Linked DNA regions of Homo sapiens. The protein of the gene in region 3 interacts with the protein of the main gene of each other region in a pairwise test. Each region holds a gene or a part of one and is shown on either strand. Other genes may lie near its edges.

Region 1 (3,155 bases), on a different chromosome or scaffold from region 3:
GTGGAAGCCTAAATATTTTGAACTGGAGATGTTTCCCTGTAAATTTATTATAGATGTATTCCTCCTGAGAGAAATGCATATAAACTATACATGTATACATGCACAAATATTTCTCCAGAACAATTTGCTAGAGGTGTAGGTTTCCCCGTAAAGGAGTAAACTTGAGAGTCATTTTAAGCTGATGGACTTGCTAAATTTCTTTCTTCTTTTTTCTTTTTCATATTATTTGCTAGCCATAATGGAATCCTCTAGGTTTAAGCCAAAGAAAAATTGGAGAGACAAAATTAGATTTTGTAGCCCTTTTCCCCCCCGGGAATGCCTTTTTTTTTCTTTTTAGTTTCTGATGAATGGCTATCATTTATTTCTACCAAATTTAAATAAGGACTGCTGCCTTGTATGTTTAACTAGGCAGGCAGAGGGAACTGGTTTGTTTAGGAAGCAGTGACTGAGATGTCCTGGCCAAGTTAGTGACAGAGGAGGGGAGAAAGAATCCAGACCAATTTGTATGCAGTATATTTTACTCCCATGAAATAAAACACATTTGTTTCATATTTGCTGAAAAGTAAAACAATAATATTGTACGAAATGTTATACACAGGGTAGGTTGTACATAGCAGTTTCAGAAACATCATTGCATCCACCAGAGAAACTATTCTAAAACTGATATTCACACATTTTTTATAATAATAATAATATGTTAGAAACATACAGTGTGGCATTTAGTATATACACTCCCTTGCTCGCAAGCGAAAAATCCTAATCGCTTCTGTATAACATGCTTTATTTTAAAGCCTAACCTTTAAAAACACTGTTGTGATATTACTAACAACTGCTTTTATAAAATTAATTTGACATTTCGATATATATACATCCTTTCAGTCATTTAAATGTTAACAATGCTAAACTTAAAAAATAACAAGCTTATAGTAATGTTAAAATGTCATATCCAGTCAAACATTTGTTTGTGTATGTGTCCTTGCAACTGTTAGAAATACTTGTAGTGAAAGATGTCAGACACTGAGGACATCCCTTTGAAATCAAAGGAGCTCTCTCTTTGATTCAGTGGTTTCCTTTTCTCTATATAGCTTCTCTTTCTCTCCCTTTCTTTAGTGCCCACGACCTTCTAGCATAATTCCCAGTCTTTCAAGGGCGGAGTTGCCCCATCCGGCAAGGTCCTAGGATCCCGGCGCTGTGGGTGCGGCTCACACGGGCCGGTCCACTGCATACTGGCAAGCACTCAGGTTGGAGGCCGGGTTCTGCACGCTGGCGTAGCCGAAGCTGGAGTGCTGCTTTGCTTTCAGTCTCAGGCTGGCCAGGCTCGAGTTACACGTGTCCCTATAAACATACGGAGGAGTCGGCGGCGCGTAAGGACAGGCAGGCGTCGGCACCGCGGAATTCAGCGACGGGCTACTCAGGTTGTTCAAGTTATTCAGGCTGTTGAGACTGGAGCCCGGGACGCCTGTCACTGCTGAGGGCACCATGCTGGACGACATGCTCATGGACGAGATAGAGTTGGGTGGGGAAAACATGCTCTGTGATGACAGGGGGTTGACGTTCATAGAGTTGAAGAAGGGGAAGCTCTTGGTGGATAGGGAGGCGGATGTAAGGCCCTTGGCGGCCCAGTTGTTGTAGGAATAGCCTGGGTACATGTCGTCGTAGGGCTGCATGAGCCCATTGAACTGCGGCCCGAAGCCATTCTTGCATAGCTCGGCCTGCTGGTTGCGCTCCCTCTTTCTCCATTTGGCCCGACGATTCTTGAACCAAACCTGGGGGCGGTTGGGGCAAGGGAGCAAACAGATGCCACAGTGCAGATTACTAAAACTTCCATCGGAGGCCAACCCCCGCCTTCCCCCGACACACACGCTAGCGCACTCACACACCCTGGCCTCGCTTCACTGCACCGCCCTGCACACCAAGATACCAGGGCCAGCTTTCAGTTACTGGCCCGGGTCTCCACCAAGCGCAGGAGACCTGGTCTGCTCTGGCCTGCGAGCTGGGACTCGGAGCTACGCCACAAACCTCAGCCGAACGCATGGAGACCTGCGGACGGTTTGATCACTCAGCCAGGCGTTTCTCCAGGTCCAAAAACACTTAATGTAAAACAAACGCGGGGCAGCAGGCTTTTCCAACCCTTCCCGGGGCACCTTGCAAACTTGCTTCCATTCCAAAGCCACAGACCCACGGATGAGGAGAAGGGGCTGGAAGGGCACTAGAGGATCGCTCTTTCTCCCACGCAATTCCTCCCTTCCTTCCCTGACCTCCACTGTCGTCCCCCACCCCCTGGTACGTGCTCCCTTAACAGGGACTAGGCCGCCAACACTCTTTCTCGCCTAGCAAAACAACCAAATAAAGAGCAAAAGACCACCTCTTCGTCAGCTCGTTAACTCCAGGAGCTTGGCATATTAAACTCCGGGAACCCGGAAAGGGTAGTTTTGGAGATTCCCCCTTCTTTCGCTCTGCCTCTTCTTTACCCTAAGCCCACCACAGGCCTGTCCGCGCGCCAGGCCCAGCCGGGTCGTTTGGCTTTGCAGGCGGCCACCCAGGCCGGCCGGCTTCCACCCGTGTCCGGTGGCCCAGCCGCAACCCCGATCCCAATCCACATCGGGCCTCCCTGTCGCCCCAGACGGCGGCTTTTGTGTATTGGAGAGAGGCCTGGCCTGAGATATCCGAGCTGACACCAGTGATGTTTCACATTACACATCTCCGCCGGGCCCAGCCGTGTAATCCGCTTTTTCTCTTTTTCCTTTCATTCTTGATTTCCTTTTTATCCCCCTTCCTCTTTGCACCCGACTGCTATAAAAAGCACGCCTCACTCCCACTTGGCTCGACAAGCAGCCGCCCTGGAAGGAGAGGCAGCTGCAAGGAGAGCCCAGCGCCGCGGCTACAAAGCACTAGGGTGGAGCTGCGGAATAGCGGGCGGGGTGGGAGGGCGTTTTCGAAGGATCCCAGAAAACCCATAGACTCTGTCTTTAATTACTTGCCATTTCTACCCTAGGCCATCTAAACTTTGCTCAGGCGAGAAGAGTACGTGAGAGGCCCGTTCCCTTGATGTGCAAGAGAGCTAATGAAAGACTGACCTTGCTCAAAACCACGCCGCCCAGGACCCAGCTCTGGCTCTGGACAGTTAAACTAAAACCATTTTCAACTTCTTCCCG
Region 2 (7,705 bases), on a different chromosome or scaffold from region 3:
GCGGGTAGGGAAGAGGACCTGGCTCTCACCTTGGATGGCTCGGCGGATGTGGGGACAGGGGCCCCACAGCTCCTGCAGAGTCACAGGGTCCCCTGAGAAGCCCTCACGCAGCCCCACCAACTCCTCCATCAGGCCCCTGGAGAAGCAGATGGAGGGAAGGACCCGGGTGAGCTGCTGCACGTCCTCGCGCTGCCTCTGGGCCCTTCCAGTGCTCTCCCCACCCAAATGAAGAGGAAGGATTGTGCGTGTGTGTGTGTGTTATCACACTAGGTCTGTGTGTGCCCTCATCCCTGAGGTTCCGTCACTGAGGGTGTGTGCCTGTGTGTGTCATTTTGTGGGATGAGGGTGGGATTCCTAGGTGTCCCCCTGTGTCCAGCAGCAGACTGTGGACACCGCTCCCACCCTCCTGGGTCGCTTGGTGCTTCCACTACTGGGAGCAGTCTCTGCCCAGGGCTGTGACTCTCTCACTGCAGAGTCCCATGGATGGCTCCGACTCTCCCTGCCAATCTCGGAGCACCCTCCTTTCTCCCCGACAGCTCAGGTCACAGAGGCAGGAAAACCCCAGGACCAGAAGGCCTCTGCAAAGCCAAAGTGAGGTGCTGGCTACTGCCCCTACCATCCCCTATGCCCTGCCTGCCTGGCCCTTCCAGGTTCATACTCCAGTCCACGCCCAGAGACCCCTCACCTGTCAGTCCTCCTGCTGCGGCTGAACTGGCCCTCCTCTCACAGAGCCTCCTTTGCTCCCAGCTCCAGTGCACCTGGACAGGTATATGCTCTACCAATCATCACTCTCTCCCTGCCACCCCCCTTCCCCGCCGGCCGGGGTTTACCATGGAGATTAAAAACGTCCTTGACAAACCAACCAGAACTGTGGAGGCCAGAGCTGTGCAGGGCAGAACTGCCAAGAGAGAAGGGGAGCAGGAGCCTCCCCACCCATCACAGCTGCACAGAGGGTGGTGCCCAGCTGTACTCAGGCTCCTGGGTGCTGCTGGACGAGGGCTGGGAAGGGGGAGCTCATGCACACAGCAGGACAGAGAGGGGTCATCTGCCAAGGCTGAGACTCAGGGTCCAGGGGTCTCAGAGCTGGACATGGAAGGTTTGAAAAAGCACAGAGGGAGAGGGGAGGAGGCTGGGAAGGGAAGGAGAAGGCAGGGGGGCAATGGTGAGTGGGGCCAGCATGACCACAGCCTCCCTGTGTGTCAGGTAGAGAGTCAGCCTTCTCCCAGATTAATTACCCTGAGTGCCCACGGAAATCCCACGAGGCAGGCAGCGTGATCCCGTTGTAGAGAAATGGTGTCTCAGGGAGCTGGGGCTGCCTGTCTAAGATCACGGAGGCCGAGGCAGAGCCAGGATTCCCAGCCCAGGTTTGCCTGGCTCCAAAGCCCGCAGGCTGTGCCACACGGTCCCATCCTGATGACCCATCTTGTCCAGGGCTGGCGAGGAGGCCGACACCTGGGGCAAGGCAGTGAATTGGGGTCAGGAACTCGGACTTGATCCTGTGTCCAGACCCTCCAGGCTCAGGAAATGCTTCTCAAAGCACACGTCCAAGGGCCAGCGGCTCTGGTGGGGACTTCTGGGTAATTCCACAGAGTTTGTCCCACCCCAACAGAGGATGGCAGCACAGGTGTGAGGGGACATGGCGAGGAACAAGCACCTGCCGTGTGCCTGCGACGTGTCAGGAGCGTCACATCTGCAGCTCAAGTCCTCCTTCCCACACCCTGTGAATGGGGAGAGCCTCGCCATTTTGTAGATGGTCAGAGAGGTGAGTCACTCATCCAAGGTCACACAGCAGAGGCTGAACCCAGCCCCACACTGTGCAGCTCTTCCCCTGCCCAAAGCTCCTCCAGCTCCTGAGGCTGAACCAGGGCAATGGTTTGGGCACAGAACAGAAGAGTTGTGTCTGATGCCACTTTTGGGCAAGAGGTTGGGGACAATTGCCTCCACTCCCACCCAGACAAAGCCACCCTCTGAAGCTTATGATAGCCCTTGGATGATTGTTAAAATCTGGGACCCTGGGCCACCCTTTGCCCCTAGATGCCAGGCAAGTCAAATCAAAATCAAAGATGTGTGTTGTGGGAGGTGGGATGGGAGTTGCCGCTCTGTATGGACTCGAGCCCACCTTCACCTTGGCCACCCCGACCTGTTGACTCTGCACAGCACCAGAACTGGCTGCCCTGTCAACATCCCGATTTCCAGTGTCTGGTCTGGGGCAGCTGCTGGCTACTGTCCCACAGCCAGCACTGCACGTCCACATCTACCCTCACCCCCCAGCCCTGTGTGCACCAGGAGGCTGAGAAGAGGGCAGCCAGGGTGGCTCAGCAGGATGACCGGTTTGAAGCCAGCACAGCTCTGCTGACCCTAACTCTTTCATCAACTAGAGCCTCAGTTTCCTCTTCTGTATGATGAGGTGAGCCTGGAAGCAGGGGCCTGTCTCTGCCTTATTCATCTCTGAGTCCTTCAGAGCCTAGAACAGTGCCCAGCACCTATTTATAGCAAGGTTTCAATGAATACCTACTGAGTGATGAGGGCTTCATCACTGGCCTATGAGCTGGCTGTGTGGGGAGCTGATGGGAAGAGATGTGAGGTCCCTTCCCCAGATCCCAAATCAAAATCCTGGGGTCCAAGGAAAGGGTCTGTGTTTGTGAAAAGCTCTCCTGGGTGACTGGGATTCAAAGGACTGCATCATCTTTGTAGCTCCTTCTGTCTCTGTGATCTGAAGGTAGAGGCAGGGGAATGTCCTTGATGACCTTTTGAGGTCCCTCTGGGTCAGTGAAGCCAGAGGATCCAGTATTTGTGTGGGTGATGCCTCGGGAAGGGGGAAAAAGGGGAGGAGGAATGGTGGGCGGGGGTGGGTAACGGGATCTGACATCCAGGGGCAGTGACTCAGGCCCTCAGCACCATGACAGTGTGTCTGCATTTAGCCACCGGCTCCTGTTTCCCTGGCGAGCGGCAGGCTCTGGGCCCCCCACCCCGCCCCACCCTCTCTCCATCTCACCTCAGTGCTGGTGGCTTCCCAGCTGCCCTAGAAACCCCTCAGCCAGGCTGGGTGTCACAGGCCCCGACACGGGCAGGAAACTCTGCCAGAGGCAACAGGCCCTGTTGCTCCAGGCAACAGCCTGGCCCGCCGCTGTGCCCTGTGCCCTGCTCTGCTTCCACTCCACATACCACCAGCACCGCTAATACCCCTGTAGAAGGAGCTCTCCAGGATGAAGCTCCAGACTGGGTTGTAGGGGGCTCAGACAAAAGAGAAACTGCCCGTCTTCAAGAACCTTCAATCTAATGGGGAGACAGGTGAACCCTCGCCCCCGTGGGAACTGCCAGTTGGATAGGGAAGAAGGGACACAGCAGAGAGTCACAGCACACAGGAAGACTATGTCACACTGCCAGGTGCTGTGGGAGGACAAAGACAGTCAGTGCTGGGGGCATCTGGACTGGGTGTGGGCCCATGTGAGCAGGAGCAGTCAGAGAGGCCTCCCTGGGGGAGGAGGCATTGGAGCTGATCTGGGACGGAAGGGACGGATTTGGAGAGGACAGCAGAGGCCCTTAACTGCAACCTGGGCAGAGCAGAGGGCCTGGCCGCCTCTCAGAATGGCCTCCACCCTGGCCCAGGGCAAGGTCAGTCCCAGCTTTGCTGAGCAAGCAGGTGGGTAGGGAGGGGCTTCTCTGGCTCTTCCGGGCCAGCCTGTCTCCATAGGCACATGTTCAAACCACCTCGGCCTCTGAAGGGCTTTGGGTCCAACACATCTAGGTTCGAATCCCAGCTCTGCCACTTACGCAACTGCGAGCCCCGCCCTTTCCAAGAGGCTTCGCTTCCCCGTCCGTAACATGGGAAGAGCCCCTCCACCCTCCCAGCTGTGTGGGGATCAAACGGGGCCGTGCTGGACAGCTTGCAGCCAGGAGCCCATGCCCAGAAGGCATTCTAGAACTCAGGGCTAGAATAATTGTCTTCCGGAATTCTCTTTTACCTCTGACTGAAATCCCACCTAAGGCGCTCGCAGGCATCACCTCTGACACAGAGATGGAGCAGACAGTTGCCGGGAACACAACCTTCTAGACCTTTAAGGAGAAAGCTGCCAACTTTGTCCTCTTGGGGCTGCTGAATGTTCTGAGAGTCAGAGGGAGTGCAGGCACAGAATCCAGGTCCCCATGGGGGCTGGCAGGGGACAGCTGCACATTTTACACCCCCTGGCAGGGCTCAACCTTTCCTTAGAGATGGGCTGTGAAGGTTGTCTGCCTTGAGGGAAGGAGCTCCTGACGTCACAGAGCGGTGGTGCTTCCACCTACCCTGTCCCCAAGGAGCCTGCACACTGATGGAGGAGGTACAGCCGTGGAGGAGAACCAGAGTCTGGAGGGGAGGCACAGTCCTCAGGAGCCCCCAGGCTGACGGGGGAAACAAAACACACAATAAACCCCAAACTTGCAAGGTTCTGGGGCAGGCACCGAGGTCCGAGTGGCAAGGAGACAGGATCCAGCCCTGTGCAGTGGTGAGGAGGCCCCTGGGGCTGCTGTGATCAGCCTGGAATGTCAGGCTGTGAGCTCAGCCCTCTCGGCCTGCGTGTCGGGCTGTCAGCAGGGCCGGCGCACGGGAGAAGATTTCCAGCCCCCTCTGGGCCATGGAGAGGCCTAAATTTAGCTAGTAGACAAGGGGCTGGCCCCAAGCCCAGGGACAGTCGGCCTTATAAAGCGGCCGCAGTCGGAGCCTGGCACGCTCGCCCAGAGGCCTGCGCCCACACCCTCTCCTGTCCAGCCCTCGCCCGCCTGGGCAGGGCCCGGCGCCGTCCGTGGATGAGCCACAGAACCTCTTCCACCTTCCGAGCGGAGAGAAGTTTCCATTCCTCTTCCTCTTCCTCCTCCTCTTCCACCTCCTCCTCGGCCTCCCGTGCTCTCCCGGCCCAGGACCCGCCCATGGAGAAGGCCCTGAGCATGTTTTCCGATGACTTTGGCAGCTTCATGCGGCCCCACTCGGAGCCCCTGGCCTTCCCAGGCAAGTGATCCGGGCCCTGAGGGGAGGGGAGGTGCACAGGGAGGGGACGTCTGCTCCAGGGCGCCACCGAAGGCGCTGTGGCTGCCGGTCGGCCTGGAACAGGTGCTGCACAGCCTGCAGCCATGTGTGGCCACCAAGACAGATGTGGCCACAGGGACAGATGTGGCCATGAAAACAGGTGGGCCTCTAAGGAACAGTTGTGGCCCTGGGGGTTGGACATGGTTCCATGGCCACCCATGCTCTGTAACCACAGCCAATCCCAGCTGGAGCCCTGGAGGGCTGGATGGGTGAGCGGTGGGGGGCAGCCCCCAGGCTCCAGGCCTGGGGTGGGGTTGTTACAGACCTAGCCTCATATACACACACACTGTGCTGGGTGAGGCCCCACCCCCACCCCAGAAAAGGTGGGCTGTAGGAATGAGGAGGAGCTTAGGGAGAAACAGCTAGGGGGGAGGTAGGGCCTGGGGGAGCCGCCCCTTGCCCCAAGAGAAGGAGCCAGAACCCCCGGATCTGCATGCAAGGCCTGCTCCATGCCTCGCTCACAGCAGCCCATCCCACAGCCCGCCCCGGTGGGGCAGGCAACATCAAGACCCTAGGAGACGCCTATGAGTTTGCGGTGGACGTGAGAGACTTCTCACCTGAAGACATCATTGTCACCACCTCCAACAACCACATCGAGGTGCGGGCTGAGAAGGTGAGCCCCCCACCCCCTACTCACCGCATCCCAAATTCTGCTCCTGCCTCCAATGTCTCCTACTCCCCCTTACCATCCTGGGACCCCAGACCCTGGCCAGTGTCCCTTCCCCACCCAAACTCCCCCAGGGCTAACTGAAGGCCTTGTCCCTGCAACCCATGGCCATGGGGCCCCCTCACTGCCTCTCTTTGCACCGAGGTTCCCAGATCCTTTCTTCCAGGGCCTGAGCAGCTGAGGGAGCCTCCGAGGAATGGGAGAGGGATGGAGGGATGTGGGCAGAGGGAGCCTGAGGGGGTGGGGCTTGAGGGTGGGAGATGACAGGTGTGAGATGGTGATGGCAGAGTGAGGACAGCTCCTCTGGTAGCTATAGGGGGGCGGATGCGGGTAGGTGGGGAACTCACCTGGGCAGTGGGGGGAGGGGTTTCTCCATGTGACCCACCTCAAGCCCTCTTCCCTCCCACAGCTGGAGACCCATCCCCCATCTTGGGACCCCTAAATTAGGCCCGAGGCTGGGCAGGGGCCCTGCAGTTTCGGGTCACACACACTCCAAACCACACACAGCGCCCGCCCACAGGTCTCAGGGTCACTGGGTCTCTAGCGTGTCTGAGTCCGAACTTCTAGGAGGCACTGGGGCCTCCACCCTGGAGAGGGTATGGCCAGGCCTGAACAGGGGCGTTGCCCAGGGACAGCCACGGCTGCCAGGAGAGAGGAGAGGACCTGACCCAAGCCTCCTCCTAAGCCCCCAAGGACTGGCTTCTTCCCCTCCACATTCAAGGGTGGATTTCTGGGCGTCCCTGCCAGGGATGCCATGGACTGGGGGCACCAAAACCCACAGGCAGCATGTGCCAGCCCTGCCACCCCCAACAGTGACTCAGCCGCCCCAAACTCCCCTGGACACTATGTGCTGGCTGAGTTGCGGGGGAGGGGCCGGCGCTCAGCCCTGGCGGGCAGATGCCCAATGTGCCCGGGGATCCAGGAAGGCACGGCTCTCCTCTGTCACCTCCACGTTCCCCAGGAGCCCCAGATTCGGAGCCACTGCCACGGAGCCTCCTCTCTCTCCAAGCCCCACCTCTTCCCCATGTCCCTGGCCTGTTCCTTGGAGCTACTGGAGCTCTGCGAAGCACCCCTGCGCTGTCCCTGCAGAGCCTTTGGCCTGTGGCCATCACCACCCTGGGCAGCCCCTCGGCACCTGAGGGCAGAGCCCCTCGGCATGTGGGGTCTGGCTGGGGTTAGAATGGGGAGAAGAGGGCTCTGGCTTGTCACAAGCAGGACAGGGGTCGGGGCAGCCTGCCTGACGGGTCACCCCTTCCCCAGCTGGCGGCTGACGGCACTGTCATGAACACCTTCGCTCACAAGTGCCAGCTGCCGGAGGACGTGGACCCGACGTCGGTGACCTCGGCTCTGCGGGAGGACGGCAGCCTCACTATCCGGGCACGGCGTCACCCGCATACAGAACACGTCCAGCAGACCTTCCGGACGGAGATCAAAATCTGAGTGCCTCTCCCTTCCCTTTCCCTGTCCCCCCGCCCCACGCCTGCCAGCAAAGCCTCGCTAACCCCATTACAACAGCTCCAGGACATCTCAGCCCAGGTTCTAGCCCCCACGCACCCCAGACCCCAGGTGGACCATCCTCCCAAACTAGGGCCCTCCACTCTATCCAGGGCAGGCCAGGGACTCCCTGGCCTGACACATGATGCCCAGATTTCAGATTTGGCCTCCGTCACTTAATCCAGAGTACAGGGGCTGGGGTCAGGGAAGGAAGATCTAAAGAACCCACTGTGGGTCAGGGGAATGGGACCAGCAGGACATATGGGCAAGCTCTGCAGGACAGACAGACAGACAAACCCTCTGATCTATGAAGTCTCTGCAGGGCAAGGGGACCAGGGACCTGGAACCCTCTTGGCCAAGGGGAGTGGGAGGGACAGAGGGAAGGTCACAGGCAAGGGTGCCTATCTAAGTGGAACTAATTGCCCGAGGGCTCAGCAAGGCCAAGAGGAGACAGCCGTGACGGTAAACTTCCCCTCTACCAG
Region 3 (7,415 bases):
TCAAGTGATTCTCCTGCCTCAGCCTCCCAAGTAGCTGGGATTACAGGTGCCCTCCACCACACCCGGCTAATTTTCGTATTTTTAGTAGAGATGGGGTTTCATCATGTTGGCCAGGCTGGTCTCGAACTCCTGACCTCAGGTGATCCTCCCGCCTCAGCCTCCCAAAATGCTGGGATTACAGGCGTAAGCCACCACACCTGGCCCTGTTTTGTTTTAATCATGCCACAATCTAAGACTTCACTTTAAACTAGAATTCATTCTCTTCTTCCATTTCAACTGGCTGCTAGAATCATTAACCAATAGAGAGGCTTAATGAGTTGGTTGATTTTTGTATAAATTAACTGAAGCTGCTGAAGTAATCCATTTAAGATGTAATTCTCTCTTCCATGATGTAAACTGATTAGGAGGATCAGTTTGACCTTGAGGAGATTTTTTTAAAGCACCATTACTTGTAAAATGTACGATGATTACATTATCTCCAGGTAATTATTTTTCTTTCCCAGTGCTGCCCTCCGACTCCAGGACTAACCACCAGCTGCCAGCATGGCTGTTCTCTGTCAGTGTCTGGATGACTCAGGAGGTGGGCTGCCTGCAGGAATCTAGTGCCAGGAGTATAGTTTTCCTTTTACACATGGTAGATCTGAATGGGTAAAAGGTCATCCTGAAAATAACATTAGTCAGGCACTTGCCTGCCAATGTGCTCTTCACATGAGCACAAGCGTTTAAAGTTACTGCTGAGTCCCAGGAAAGGTACGTAGCTCTGGACACGCCTTCGAGAGGGCAACCCCTGGGGCCCTCAGTCAACGTGCATCCTGAGGGAATCAAGGCAGAGAACCCTGACTTGGCAGTGAGTCTTCCTCCCTGTCTGGCTGCTGTCCACTGCAGGCCCTGCCCTTTCTTTTTAGGGGGTTCAGGAGCTGACTGCCCGAAGCCACCTCACTTGCTGTACTCAGAAGTCGGACTTGGAAACAAAACCAACTCACTGAGTGAAGAACAATTTGCAATATCTTAGAGATTAAGTCATTTCTGGAAGCTTAAAGGATCCTTCCAAGTGACTACCGTGACCTTAATCACAAAGGAAAGGCACTGTATCACCTCCCATATGGTTACAGTACGAAAAAGGTTGAGGGACATTTTAAAGAATTTTTAGTGGAAAGCAGAGTTGTATTGAATCCAGTGGATAGTTTTAACGTCTCCAAGAAAGATGAATGGTGAGTTGAGAGAATAGTTACAAAGGCCCAGGCATCTACACGAAGTTAGAAGAGATGCAGAAAAGGCTGCTAAGAGGCTGGTGGGAGGACCAGAACGGGCCATTCAGTAAATACCTAAGACATGCCTACTACAAGACAGCCATGGTCTCCACCTCCCAGGGCCTCCATCCCAGGTAGAACACTCATCACTCTGTCCAGCCCCTTCATTTTACACATATGCGATTGAGATCTCGAATAATGAAGCCACTTAGCCACCTTATTTGTGGGAGTCAGAATCGGACTGCAGTATTAAGCGCTTTCCTTTACAAAGCGATTTCTTTTTTAGAAGTTTTACTCGATATTACTGTAATACAAGACATTTTCCAATATTATATTAGTAACAGTTTAAGGGGAAAGGCTTTTTTCTTTGCCAACTGCTCCTGAACCAGCTCTTCTCGTCATTATTCACTTGGTTGCCATCAGCATTCAAACACTGATTATGCCACTGTCACAGGAAGTGTGTGCTAGTTAGGAAATCAGATCAAAACTGAAACTCTAGAATCAGTCCTTAAGTTTTAGTTTTATTTTCCCTGAAAACATTCCTCCTTAAACGAAATTTTTTTCTTTTTTTTTGGTTTTTGAGACGGAGTTTCGCTCTTGTTGCCCAGGCTGGAGTGCAATGGCGCGATCTTGGCTCACGGCAACCTCTGCCTCCCAGGTTCAAGGGATTCTCCTGCCTCGGCCTCCCGAATAGCTGGGATTACAGGCATGCGCCACCACGCCCGGCTAATTTTGTATTTTTAAAAGAGACGGGGTTTCTCCATGTTGGTCAGGCTGCTCTCGAACTCCTGACCTCAGGTGATCCGCCCGCCTAGGCCTCCCAAAGTGCTGGGATTACAGGCGTGAGCCACTGCGCCCAGCCACTAAATTTCATAAATGGTAAGATATCCAACCTTACCAAATGTATCTATAGTTTATATTTTTGACAGGCTGCATAATAAATCCATAGGGCTCTATCTGAATTTCAACAAGGATTATTCAGTAAGAAGAAAATGAGTGTTGTATCTCAGCTGCGCCCATCAGCTCTATTCCCCGAATGACCGTGAGCTTGAAGGAAAGCCATTTAACGCACACGGTGCCGATGGGTGTCTTCTGCTTGGCGACATCGTGGGCTTTATCCTACTTCCTCAAGGAGGCATAAAAGATGATTTTTTCCCCACAACAATGAGCTTTCTTACAGACATATTAAACGGAAATGAAATGTGCTACTCATTCCCAGCGTTGCAGAACCAGGTGAGGCCCGAGACAAAGGCGCGGGATGGCCGGGACGCCAGCCCGGGGCGGAGGGGCTGGCGGCGGGAGCGTCACCCGCACCTCCGCGGGGAGACGTCCAAGCCTCGGCGCTCCCAGCCCGGCCGCCGCGCCCCGCTCCAGGCTGGGGCTGGGGCTGGGGTCAGCCCCGCAGAGCAAGGGGCGGTGATGTCATCCTCTCGGCGAGCTTGGCTGCGGGCCGGAGGCGAGGCCCTGCGGGAAGGTTTCTCGGCACCGCTCACCGGGGCGCTCTCTCCGAGTCACGCCCGGTGCCTCCCCGCGCGGGAAGAAGCTCAATCCCCTTCCCGCCCCCCGCGCCGGGGAAACGGCGGCAATGTCCGGGCAGAATGGGGCCGGGCGGAGCGCCGGCGACCGGGAAGCTCAGGCCGTGGGCTGCCGAGACTGGCCTAGCTGAAGGAGGTGGGCAGCCAGGCCTTTCCGGGCAGGACCGCGTGTCCTTCCGCGGCCAGGGCTCTAGGCCTCCACCCTTCCGTCGCCGACCCGGCGGTTACCTCCTCCGCAGCCTGGTAGTCTTCCATCTTTCCTCCGGCGCGTCCCCTCCGGCTCCCTGAGTGGCGCGGACTGCGCAGGCGCACTCAGGCCCCGCCCCGGACCTGCCACGCCCCTCTCCTCTCGCGCCTGCCTCGCCCATGCCCAGCTCCCGGGCCCCGCCCTTCGCTGCCCGGACCCTCAGTGACCCCATCCCTGGGCGGGGCCCGTGGGTGGACCCTGAATTCGCCTCTCCTCCTGTCCTCTGGGAGGTGGTAGTTTCCATGGGAATCCGTGAGGGTAGCCGGGCAGCTCCCTAAACCTTAGCAACAGAAACAAAACACACGTACAAAAGGCAGTCCTGGAGGGGAAGCGTGGTCCCGGCCCCTCCTCCGGTTTGTACTGTGTGGATTGACGCGGACGTTCAAACCCGCTCGGACACCTGGCAACAAACTCGAAAGTGACTGCTGAAGGCAGTGCGCCCGGTGAGACGTTGTTGCAGTTCCCTTGGGGACTGGGATTGGCATGCTTTAGCTATCTGAACGAAACTTCCCTTTGGGGAGTTAAGTTTTCCAGGTAAATGAGAATTTTTCCTTTAAGCACCATTAAAAAAAAACATTTTGGGTGGAAAATTTTGTAAAATGTGGCACACTTCCTGACTACCTTAACCATAGTGAACTAGACAGACTTTATTTGTATGTGGGTTCTTTATGGAAATTAGGAATTGCACTGGGCTCTGGTAAACTGCCCTCCACGGAAAGCTGGGGCATATGCATCTATTGGCAGGTATTCTGAGGCTCCGAGTTTTGATTTTGGCGTTTGCTTTTTCTGGTTTCGTCATGCACTTGAATTCAGGTTGCTGGAACCCACTTCCCATTCCCCAAGAAAGAGCTGACTGCAAGGGTCCCAGGGATTTGGTAGACCTAAACTTCAAATCCCACATCTAATCCATCAACAACCCTTGTTATTTCTACCCCATATGCTCGGGACCCCAGTTAAAGATTGATATCTCTCATCTGGATTATGACCATCGGACTGTAACCTGGTCGGTCTATCAGGGTCTTATTAGAGCCCTTCAAGAGGAACCTAACCCAACGACTCCTCCCTCCCCTCACCCATTCTGCCCTGCCATAAGTCAATAGTTACTAAGTTGTCAGACTATAGACTAATCTTAGTGATCTTTGGATGACTAAACTTTTAACATATCTTAGCTCAAAATCTCCTACAGAGAGCCATTCTGTGACCACGGCATCTAAGGTAGCCGACCTCCTCATCCTCCACCCCTGCATCCTGTACATTTTCCTCATAGCACTTCTCTCAGTTTGCAAGAACGTATTTATGGTTGCTTGTTGATGGTGTGTCTCCATTTAGAAACTAAGTACCATGCAGGAAGGATCTGTTTTATTCACTAATGTATCCCCTTCCTTCCACATTGTGCCTGGCACATAATAGCTACACAATTAACATTTATTTATTTATTTATTTAGAGACAGGGTGTCATTCTGTTGCCCGGGCTGGAATGCAGTGGTGTGATCGGAGATTTTGAGCTAAGATGTGTTGAAGTTTAGTCATCCAAAGACCACTAAGAGCTTGAACTCCTGGGCTCAAGGTATTCTCCTGCCTTAGCCTCCTGAGCAGCTGGGATTCCAGGCACTAGCCACCACACCCACCTATTTTTTTAATATGTCTTTTGTAGAGATGGGATCTCACTGTGTTGCCCAGGCAGGTCTCAAACTCCCGGGCTTAAGGGATCCTCCAGCCTCAGCCTCCCAAAGTGCTGGGATTATAGCTGTGAGCCACCATGCCCGGCCTAAAATTTATTGCATGAATCATTTCCCTCATGGGTGTTAGCTTTGCCTCAGACCCAAATGGAGAGAACTGGGGAGTGGAGGAAGATGCAACTACCTGCCTCCTTGAGGGAAACAGGGCTGGCGAGAGGAGGGCAGAGCCCTGACTGACACAAGGCTGCTTGGCCCTGGGTGTTCGGCCTGAGCGAGGAGACTTGCTGGGCAGGCTGGTTGCTTTACCACACCTGGTCTTCCTCTCCTTGGATTCTGAACTTTATCTACCTTTTGAATTCCTTTCTTATTACCTGGCTTCAACTCCCCTGTCCTGGTGTTTCAGTCGTGCGCCTCAGTCCACATGTGATTCTGATGCTGACATTGCTTTGCCTGCCTGCCCTTCTCAGTATCACCTGAGATCTCGTTTTGGATGTTCTCTGCCTACCTGGTTCCAAGCTCTTGGCCCCACCACGATCCTGAGCCAATCAGGAGCCTCTGAAATCTTTTTTCTTCTGCTACTTTGTTGTGGACCTGGAGTTCAGTAGCTAAGTGTCACAGAATTATGTGCAAAGCAAGAGTAAACCGGTTCTGAGCAAACACCTGCAATGGAAGAACATGACACTTGGGACAGCCTTTTCAATTTTCCCCACAACCTTTTAGGAACTTCCTAATTTAAATCAATTTCCTGAATGTCTGCTAGGATGGTGCATAATTAATGCATGGATCTTGTTATAACTGCGGATCACCAGCATGCACATAAATCAACAGAAAACATGCAAATGTGCATTTTAAAAATGCTTACATGATTTTAGCTTTTATACATTGGGTACCACTCTCCAATTTTAACTATTAAAGAACATTTGTTAAATGATCGCGATGTATGACATTTTGAGGCTGCCAGTAAACGGATGAGCTGGTCTGTTTATCTTCACAACTATCTGTTCACTTGTTCAATACACATATATGGAGCACTCCCTTTGTGTCAGGCTCTGAGCTGGGGGTTGAGGCTACAAAGTTGACTAAAACATGGCCTTTATGGAATTTTTTCTTTTAAACGGATATATCTGTAAATAGGAGGGTTTGAATTCTCTAGGCTTATGTGATGTTGTAGTGCTTGGAAAAATGCAGTGATGTGGTATTATATTCTGCCCAACTGATGTAGTCTGTAGGGCTAAGGAATTTAAAATCGTTAAGACATTTGGCAGTTCACCAGATGCCATTTCCAGCACCTTCCATCTGCCACGAATGGATGTCCATCAGAAGCATTGGAGCTCAGACACCTTTACTCGTAACTGCTCATGAATCTTTGGCATTCTGCCATATTTTAGAATAATGTTTAGTTTCTATGCAGTAAGTCAGTGGAGTGAATCTTAGGTTTGTTTTTCAATTTGGAGGTTAGTGATAGGTTGGCAGGTTTGCGTGCAATCACCTTTCTTTTCTGGAGTCAAATTTCTTGAATACAGACTGTGGGACTGGAGCTGCCAATACCTTTATTTAGCAAGTGTGGGCCTAATAATCATAGCAATCAATGAACTGTCACATCAATAAATAACATCAATAATATCCAGCAGTGGCTGGGCGCAGTGGCTCACACCTGTAATCCCAGTACTTTGGGAGGCTGAGGTGGGCAGATCACCAGAGGTCGGGAGTTCGAGACTAGCCTGACCAACATGGAGAAACCCTATCTCTACTAAAAATACAAAATTAGCCAGGCATGGTGGTGCATGCTTGTAATCCCAGCTACTTGGGAGGCTGAGGCAGGAGAATCGCTTGAACCCAGGAGGCAGAGATTGCGGTGAGCTGAGATAGCGCCATTGCACTCCAGCCCGGGTAACAAGAGCGAAACTCCGTCTCAAAAAATAAAATAATAGGCCAGGCGTGGTGGCTCACGCCTGTAATCCCAGCACTTTGGGAGGCCGAGGCGGGCGGATCACGAGGTCAGGAGATCGAGACCATCCTGGCTAACACGGTGAAACCCTGTATCTACTAAAAATACAAAAAATTAGCTGGGTGCGGTGGTGGGCGCCTGTAGTCCCAGCTACTCGGGAGGCTGAGGCAGGAGAATAGCGTGAACCCGGGAGGCGGAGCTTGCAGTGAGCCGAGATCGCGCCACTGCAGTCCCGACTGGGTGAAAGAGCGAGACTCGGTCTCAAAAAAAAAAAAAAAAAAATAATAATAATAATAATATCCAGCAGTGTTGTTCTGCTATAATCTGCAGCCCTTCATAGTCCAAATGCCATCCTGTGGATTTTCCATTTTTTCCTTTCTTCCCCTGTGCCAAGAAGTGTGTTACTATGAGATCATGCTGAGTCAAAATAATAGTAACAGAAGAAGACGATGAGGACGAGGGTGCTGTTGAAACACTCATGGCTGAGGAATTTAATGTTGTAAAGGAAAAGAAACTCTGGCTGACACATATCTAAAGTGAGAGTCCTGTGCTGAGAAAAGCTAAAGAGATTAGCTAAGAAGTGCCTATATTTAGATCTGCTATTGAGCTGGGAAGCGGAGGCACAGTTGTGCTGAAATACCTCTGTACCCCATGAAACAGTGGCTGCTCTGAGCTTCTTGGGTCCCTCTTCCTCTCAATCCTGGTGACTGCAGCCCCTTCCCTGGGACCTCATCCCCAAGATCCAATAACTAAAGG

What was found. The genes of interacting proteins can lie anywhere in the genome.
Region 1: the proteins of DYNLT1 (region 3) and PITX2 interact in binary tests that used the Homo sapiens proteins (3 or more experiments, as listed by UniProt).
Region 2: the proteins of DYNLT1 (region 3) and HSPB7 interact in binary tests that used the Homo sapiens proteins (3 or more experiments, as listed by UniProt).

The regions. Positions count from the first base shown.
Region 1 is NC_000004.12:110,616,923-110,620,077, forward strand, and holds the end of PITX2 (pituitary homeobox 2), read right to left. Parts: intron 1,767-3,155; coding exon 1,203-1,766; 3' UTR 501-1,202; downstream 1-500. UniProt on the Homo sapiens protein: May play a role in myoblast differentiation. When unphosphorylated, associates with an ELAVL1-containing complex, which stabilizes cyclin mRNA and ensuring cell proliferation.
Region 2 is NC_000001.11:16,015,044-16,022,748, reverse strand, and holds the start of HSPB7 (heat shock protein beta-7), read left to right. Parts: upstream 1-4,705; 5' UTR 4,706-4,785; coding exon 4,786-4,984; intron 4,985-5,526; coding exon of another isoform or gene 5,527-5,541; coding exon 5,542-5,675; intron 5,676-6,989; coding exon 6,990-7,169; 3' UTR 7,170-7,705. Other genes in the region: CLCNKA (chloride channel protein ClC-Ka), read right to left, coding at 30-129.
Region 3 is NC_000006.12:158,641,669-158,649,083, forward strand, and holds the start of DYNLT1 (dynein light chain Tctex-type 1), read right to left. Parts: upstream 3,076-7,415; 5' UTR 3,041-3,075; coding exon 3,014-3,040; intron 1-3,013. UniProt on the Homo sapiens protein: Acts as one of several non-catalytic accessory components of the cytoplasmic dynein 1 complex that are thought to be involved in linking dynein to cargos and to adapter proteins that regulate dynein function.